Homo sapiens: one gene and its partner. The protein of the gene in region 1 purifies or fractionates together with the protein of each later gene. This does not show direct contact. Each region holds a gene or a part of one and is shown on either strand. Other genes may lie near its edges.

Evidence for each region.
Region 2: the proteins of FBXO45 (region 1) and CDH2 purify together in Homo sapiens (affinity purification with mass spectrometry; 2 studies listed by BioGRID and IntAct, with this or other methods). This does not show direct contact.

Annotation. Positions count from the first base shown.
Region 1 is NC_000003.12:196,578,517-196,582,436, forward strand, and holds part of FBXO45 (F-box/SPRY domain-containing protein 1), read left to right. Parts: intron 1-3,920. UniProt on the Homo sapiens protein: Component of E3 ubiquitin ligase complex consisting of FBXO45, MYCBP2 and SKP1. Functions in substrate recognition but also plays an important role in assembly of the complex.
Region 2 is NC_000018.10:28,170,266-28,174,185, reverse strand, and holds part of CDH2 (cadherin-2 isoform 1 preproprotein), read left to right. Parts: intron 1-3,920. UniProt on the Homo sapiens protein: Calcium-dependent cell adhesion protein; preferentially mediates homotypic cell-cell adhesion by dimerization with a CDH2 chain from another cell. Cadherins may thus contribute to the sorting of heterogeneous cell types.

The DNA of each region.
Region 1 (3,920 bases):
TTTTTTTAATGTCATTTTCAAGGTAAGGATCTATCACGAGTTTCAACTCTATTTATAGTACAAAAGCAGTCATCGATAATACGTAAATGAACGAACATGGCTGTATTCCATAGACCTTATTTATGGGCTGCAGGACAGATTTGGTCCAGGGGCTGTAGTTTGCCAGTTCATGCTCTATATCAAGCTTGTCCAACCCACAGCCTGCATGCAGCCCAAGATGGCTTTGATTGTGACCCAATGCAAATTCATAAACTTTCTTAAAACATTATGAGATTTTTTTGCAATTTTTTTTTTTAAAGCTGATTAGCTATCTTTAGTGTTAGTGTATTTTATGTGTGGCCCAAAACAATTCTTCCAGTGTGGCCCAGGGAAGCCAAAGGATTGAATACCCCTGCTCTAGATGGTCATCTTTCCTGTATCACGGCACATCCAAATCTTTTTCTAGGCTCCTTACCCCAGTAAATACAGCTCTGTGCATGCACATGTTTGTGGATTCAAAGCCCCTGGAGGCATCAGTGAGTTCTGCAGAGACAGGCAAATTCAGGCAAACTGCTGTATTTTTTATTCTTTTCATCTTAGGCTTAAGGCATACTCATTTGACTCAAGTTAAAATTATAGTTCCTATTTGTAAAAGCCGTATTTATTACTACAGACTTAACAGGGTGTAATATACAATAATCTGATAAGAAATTGGAAGTCTTTAAAGAACTATAGATTGCATATTTCAGAGCCACCTGTGGCGTGAAAGTTCCAGCCTCAGTAATGACCTCAAGTCAGGCATACTAAAGCAGAAGAACCAAAAATACATCCCATTTTCTGAGGTATAAAAGCTGGAAGGATTTTTTTCATGGAATGTTTCCTCACTATCCTTTTAGGCTCTGCGGATACTATAAGGAGAAGGGTGTGTAGACTTTATCACTAAAAACGAAGTCCTGTCGCCACCCTTGTAATGATTTTGTAAGTGAAAGTCCTTAAGTCTGTTTTTCAGAGAACATGCTCTATGGTTTTAGTCCTTTTAAATTTATTGAGATTTGTTTTATTCTAATATGTGGTCTGTCTGGATGAGTGTCCCATGTGTGCTTGAAAAAATGTATATTCTTTTGCTGAATGGAATATTCTGTAAATGAGAATTAGGCAAAGTCGATTGATAATGTTCAAGTCTTACATAGTGTTACTGATTTTTTTCTACCCTTCTATTATTTACTAAGAGGAGTATTGAAATCTCCATCTATCCTTGCTAATTTGTCTTTCTTCTTTTAGTTCTCTCAGTGTTTGCTTCATGTATTTTGGAGCTCTGTTACTACTGGTGCATATACATTTCTAATTGTTTTATCTCCCTGCCTGATTTATTCTTTTATTATGAAATGACTTCCTTTGACTCTAGTAATCCTCTGTCAATCTGTCTTTGTATTTAAAGTGGAGCTCCTACACAGCACATAGTTGGATCTTGATTTTTATCTAACCCAGTCTCTGTCTCTGACTTTTTTTTTTTGAGACGGAGTTTTACTCTTGTTGCCCAGGCTGGAAGTGCAATGGCGCAATCTCGGCTCACCGCAACCTCCACCTCCCAGGTTCAAGTGATTCTCCTGCCTCAGCCTCCCGAGTAGCTGGGATTAGAGGCATGCGCCTCTAAACCACGCCCGGCTAATTTAATTTTATATTTTTTTAGTAGAGAAGGGGTTTCTTTTTTTTTTTTTTCTCCTTTTGAGACAGAGTTTCACTCTTGTTGCCCATGCTGGAGTGCAATGGCATGATCTCAGCTCACCGCAACCTCTGCCTCCCGGGTCCCGGTTCAAGCAGTTCTCCTACCTCAGCCTCTTGGGTAGCTGGGATTACAGGCATGCGCCACCACACCCAGCTAATTTTTGTATTTTTAGTAGAGACGGGGTTTCACCACGTTGGCCAGGCTGGTCTCGAACTCCTGACCTCGTGATCCGCCTGCCTCAGCCTCCCAAAGTGCTCGGATTACAGGCATGAGCCACCATGCCTGGCGAGACGGGGTTTCTCCATGTTGGTCAGGCTGGTCTCGAACTCCCAACCTCAAGTGATCCACCTGCCTTGGCCTCCCAGTTGCTGGGATTACAGGTTGTGAGCCACTGCGCCCAGCTTCGGTCTCTGACTTTTAAGTGTTTAGTTCATTTACCTTTAATGTAAGTGTTGGATTGCTTGATGTTGTCCTTATCTCTGCCTCTAAAACTATGTTCTTGTTTTTTCCCCCAACCTTGTTTCTCTCTAATCTTTGCATTAGATAATTTCTTTTCCTTTTTTTTTTTGAGATAGGGTCTCGCTCTGACACCTCGGCTGGAGTGGTGCAGTGGTGCAGTGGCGTGATGATCTTGGCTCACTGAAACCTCTGCCTCCCAGGCTCAAGTGATCATCCCACCTCAGCCTCCAGAGTAGCTGGGACTACAGGTGCTCCCCACCAATGCCTGGCTAATATTTGTATTTTTTGTAGAGACAGGGTTTTGCCATTTTGCCCAGGCTGGTTTCAAACTCCTGAGCTCAAGCAGCTGCCTGCCTCAGTCTCCCAAAGTGCTGGGATTATAGGCATGAACCACTGGGCTTGACCTAAATTAGATAATTTCTGTTCTGTCTTCAAGGTTATAAATTTTTTTCTTTTGCCATCTCACCTCTGCTATTGAACTGGGCTAGTAAATTTTGCTTATTGTACACTTCAGCTTTAGAATTTCCTTTTTTTTCTTTTTCCTTTTTTTTTTTTTTTTTTTTTTTTTTTTGAGACAGTCTCACTCTGTCGTCAGGCTGGAGTGCAGTGGCACGATCTGGGCTCACTGCAGCCACCGACTCCCGGGTTCAAGTGATTCTTCTGCCTCAGCCTCCTGAGTAGCTGGGACTACAGGTGTGTGCCACCATGCCCAGCTAATTTTTGTATTTTTAGTAGAGATGAGGTTTCACCATGTTGGCCAGGATGGTCTCGATCTCTTGACCTCGTGATCCGCCCGCCTCGGCCTCCCAAAGTGAAAGTACTGGGATTACAGGCGTGAGCCACCACACTGGGCCTGGTTCTTTTTTAGAGTAAATTTCCTTTTCGAGATTCCTTATTTATTTACTTATACTATATTTGTAAAAAAATCTTTGGACATATTCATAACAGCTGCTTTGAAGTCTTTACCAAATCCAACACTTAGGACCACTTGGATTCAGCTTCTGTTGATTGCTTTTTTCCCCTAAATATGAATCACGCTTTCCTGTTTCTTTTCATATCTAGTAATTTTTTTAACTGAAACCTAGATGTGTAGATAATATGTAGTAGTAACTCCTGAATGTTTTGTTTCTAGAAACTGCTTTATTCTCTGAAAAGTATAGGTTTTCTTGTTTTAGTAGGCAGTTAACTTGCCTATACTCAAACTATAAACTCTGTCTCATGTGATGTGTGGCAGCTAATGTCTGCTCAGTTTTTTCAGCTTTGCTGCTTTTTTAGTCCTGGAGGTTTACCCTGTGCCTTTGTAATATAGTGGTCACTCAGGGATTTGGGAAGTTAATTCTCAGATTTTGGGGTTCATCCTTTCTGTGGTTCTGTTGCTTCTGGAGTTCCTCCTCTAAGTTTCCAGTTGCTCTGCCATCTCCCCACGTTTTACCCCAGCACCTAAAGATGGTAAGACTTCGCTTTCTCCACCCTGGGCTTTGTGCGTGCTGTGTGCTCAAAGGTGAAGCAGATTTGCAGATTTCACCAGGAGTAATCGTTACTTAGTTTCAACTTCTGTAAAATAGGGATAGTTCCTAGGATTAGTGTGAGGATTAAATGGGATAATACAAATACGACACAACACAAATACCCAACAAAATTAGCTTTTCATTTCTACTTTGTTAATATTTTGTTGGTAGGAGTGGTGGTGATGATGATTTGGAGGTTCTTAGATCCATAAAATGAGGTGTGGGTTAATCTGTGAGGTGGGCAAAGG
Region 2 (3,920 bases), on another chromosome or scaffold:
GATACGGAGCACCCTTGTTTTTTTACAAGCTAAATATAATTGAATATTCAAAGGACTCTGTGCCTTGAATTGTTAACTGAAGTGTCTGTGTACCTTATTTTACTTAGAGAAATTACTAGTTTAGTTAGTCTTGTTATGTAGATTTACATAATTCTAGTCAATCTTGCATGTTATGATGTTCAACATCAAGATTTTCTTTAGTCTTATTTTAAGATGTTAGCCTTTTTTATATTAAAAAATCCGAATTTGAGCATTCAGCTTACCTGATAAAAGTATAAAATATTATATCACAAAGTTATAACTAGCTTTCCTTTTAAATAATACAAGTGACTTTCAAATCTTTACATAGGTTTATTGTTAAGAAAAAAAATCAATGTTGCTTTTACCATTGACCTAGTTAATTAATATATTAGAAACCTGTGTTGTTTTTCTAGTTCACATCTTAATTGCATAACCCCATTGTTCTAATTTAAATACGTTTGTATGGGTTATGGGGCATCTAGGACAGTATTTTAATGTTCATAGAAATTCATTTCTAAGACTTAACAGATCCTGGTTTCAACCCTGCGTGAGGACCTTGGAAAAACGATGGATAAACCTTATGTGTTTTTCACCTATTAGGTACAGATTTTAAAGAAATTAATATTCAACATATGAAGTATACATAAAAAGAAGCAGCTTTGTTCTAGAATGTGGCAAGGATTCAGCAGTGATTTTAAGTGTAAATCGTGTTTATTCTCAGTATTTATTTGATTTTCATGTGCTTTTGAAACATAAGTTCTTGTGAAAATAAGAAGAGTTAACTTGGTGTTCAGAGTTTACTTACTAGACACAGTTATGTATATTTCTTTGCTTTTCTTAACTTGAGGCATGCGGTCATTACTAATAGGTGAAAGGTTACAAACATACTAGGTGTAATTTGAAAAACAGTATTTTATGTATCCTCACTTGTTTTTAAAACACTATATATTAAACCATAGGTACTTTCTGACTTTTATACTTTCATCAAAGTCTGCCCTAACCTTCTAAAAGTTCAGACTGAGATTTTACAAGGAAATACTTTTTAGATATTTCTTGCTTTTTACATGTAGAGACTAAAATCTTTCTGGAGCAGATTATTTTCATGATGGTATAGAGCACCAAACTGTCCTTAATTTTCTTTTTCATTAACAATTTCAATTCTTAAATCTGTTGTGCCTCATTAAGCTTTAGGGTTATTAATAGGGAAATGTCAAGACTTAAAGCAACAGTTAATCTTGCTTTAAATCCTATTTTTTTTAATCCTAAGTGATTAAAATCCCCATCTTCTTTTCAAGGGGTTATTATGAAGTTAGAAGAGTGATTTTTAAAAATCAGAGCTGTTATTTAAGAAGTGTTGTGTTCGTATATACACTACCATTTTTCCCAGGTTAACATTCAGATTTGTTCTTTTGGCTCAAATACAAAAAAGTAATCAAGTTTAGGCACTGCTTAGATTTGGTGGTGGTTTTTGTCAGCCATTTAAAAATGTGATAGATTTTTAAATTTGGATTTTGTCATCTGAATAAGTATTTCGCTCTGACAGCAGTATACTTGCTAGAACCTAAGTATTTTCAAGTTAAGAGTTTTAAGTTGAAACATAATTGGTACCAACAAATCACTGTGTCTCACATTTCTGTTTTTTTCTACTAAAATTTTATTTTTATTTTAATTTTTCAGAAAAAGACATCAGTTAATTTGAGCAGATGCTAGTCTTTGTATTTAACTAAATACATGTAAGTTTTAATTAAACAACCTTATCCATGCCAAGGAAGAGGTATATACATATTAATGTTTTAGTAAGAGCTATATCTTCTGCATGTATGAAGTGATAGGTCTAAAGTAGGCAGAACAAGGTGAATTCACAAGCTAAATGGGACTTTTTGAAAGATGTAGATTTAAACATTATGATTTATGTTATAATAGTCTCTTTAAGGAAAATTTAGATTAAATTCTGCTTAGATTTTTATTCCTTGTCGCTCACTCTTTGGTACTCAGTGCACTTCCTCATCTGCTTCCAACTGTACTTACAGCCCCCAAGCCCTTGGATTGCATACACACACGCACACACACACACACACACACACACACCCCAAATGTATGTTGAGGACTGCTATATACATATGAGTCTCCTGCAACACTGAGTACAGTCTGATATGAAGTGTCAATCAATAATTGATTGATTACTTTATGTCATGAAAGGTGGTTTAGGCACCAACAGTATAATAACTGATCTGTGTAAGTGAATGCCCTTGTGTAGTGTCAAGGGCAAGAGCTAGTGTCCAGGGCAGGAAGCATGGGGTTCTGATTTCGTCCAGATGTAGTCTACTCTCTTAAAGTCCCGTGACCTCATTTTCCTCAACAATAAAATCTTGGGCCTAGTTGGATTAGTTGATCTCTAAGAGACTGTCCAGTTGCATGATTCCTGGGGCTACTTAAAAAATATCTCAAACACATCTCCTTTTCGAAGGTTGTGGAAAGGCTTTTTTCAGCCGAAAATGTAAGAATTTTCAGATACTTGGAGTGATAGAATGTGAGTTTTGAAGATTTATTAACCGTAGTTTATCGTGATAGGTTTAAAGTCATCTATATTTTTTATATGCCTGAATTTTAAACTTAAAATTTTCTTCATTGGCTGTGCTACCTTTGCCAGTAAAAGTAAACAATTTTGGGGAGGGGTTTAGGCTTAAAGGAAGGTAAGTGTAATATTACTGAGAATAAAAATTATTTTTAGGCTTAAAATGAAGGTAAGTGTAATATTACTGAGAAAATTTTTTTTATTAGTTTTATGAGCTCATGTTTCTTTGAGAGAAGATAGCCTTCAGGAGAGCCATTGAATTGAGTGATAGGGGGTCAACATTAAAAATATAAGTGGGTCAGCATTAAAAATACAGCTCTAGCCCTTTGTCAAGTTTTCCTCTAGCTTTTTTTTTTTTTTTTTTAAAGACAGTCTCGCTCTGTCAGGCTGGAGTGCAGTGGCACAGTCTTGGCTCAACTACATCCTCCGTCTCCCGGGCTCAAGGAATTCTCCTGCCTCAGCCTCCTGTGTAGCTGGGATTACGTGTGCCACCATGCCCAGCTAATTTTTGTATATTTAGTAGAGATGAGGTTTCACCATGTTGGCAAGGCTGGTCTCGACTCGAACTCCTGACTTCAGGGAATCCGCCTGCCTCGGCCTCCCGAAGTGCTCGGATTACAGACACGAGCCACTGCTCCTGGCCTCCTCTAGTTTTTTTTTTTTTTTGGTACAGGTATGCATGTATTTATGACAAACACATGGTATAGATACATATACGAAGATATTTATTGAAGCATTGCTTATGATTACGAAAGATTGGATTATTTGATCTCTAAAAGTCCATGAGTAAGAAATGATTTAAGAAATTATGGCATAATGTTAAGCTAAATTTAATAACCCCTGCTGTAGGGAACAAAACATTTTCTACTAGTTCAGGTTCAAGAAAGCGATTGTTAAGCCACCTCATGTTTTGGGAATAGTCATGAACCTAAAAAAGCTACAGAGGGCCAGGCATGGTGGCTGATGCCTGTAATCCCAGCACTTTGGGAGGCCAAGGCAGGTGGATCACGAGGTTAGGAGATCAAGACCATCCTGCCTAACACGGTGAAACCCTGTCTCTACTAAAAATACAAAAAATTAGCTGGGCATGATGGTAGGCACCCGTAATCTTAGGTGCTTGGAAGGCTGAGGCAGGAGAATCACTTGAACCCGGGAGGCGGAGGTTGCAGTGAGCCGAGATCATGCCACTGCACTCCAGCCTGGGCAACAGAGCGAGACTCCACCTCAAAATAAAATTTAAAAAAGCTACAGAGAAGGACAACCAAAATAAATGAGGATTTCAGGCTTCTGAATGAGGATTAATTTGACACAGACCACAATATAA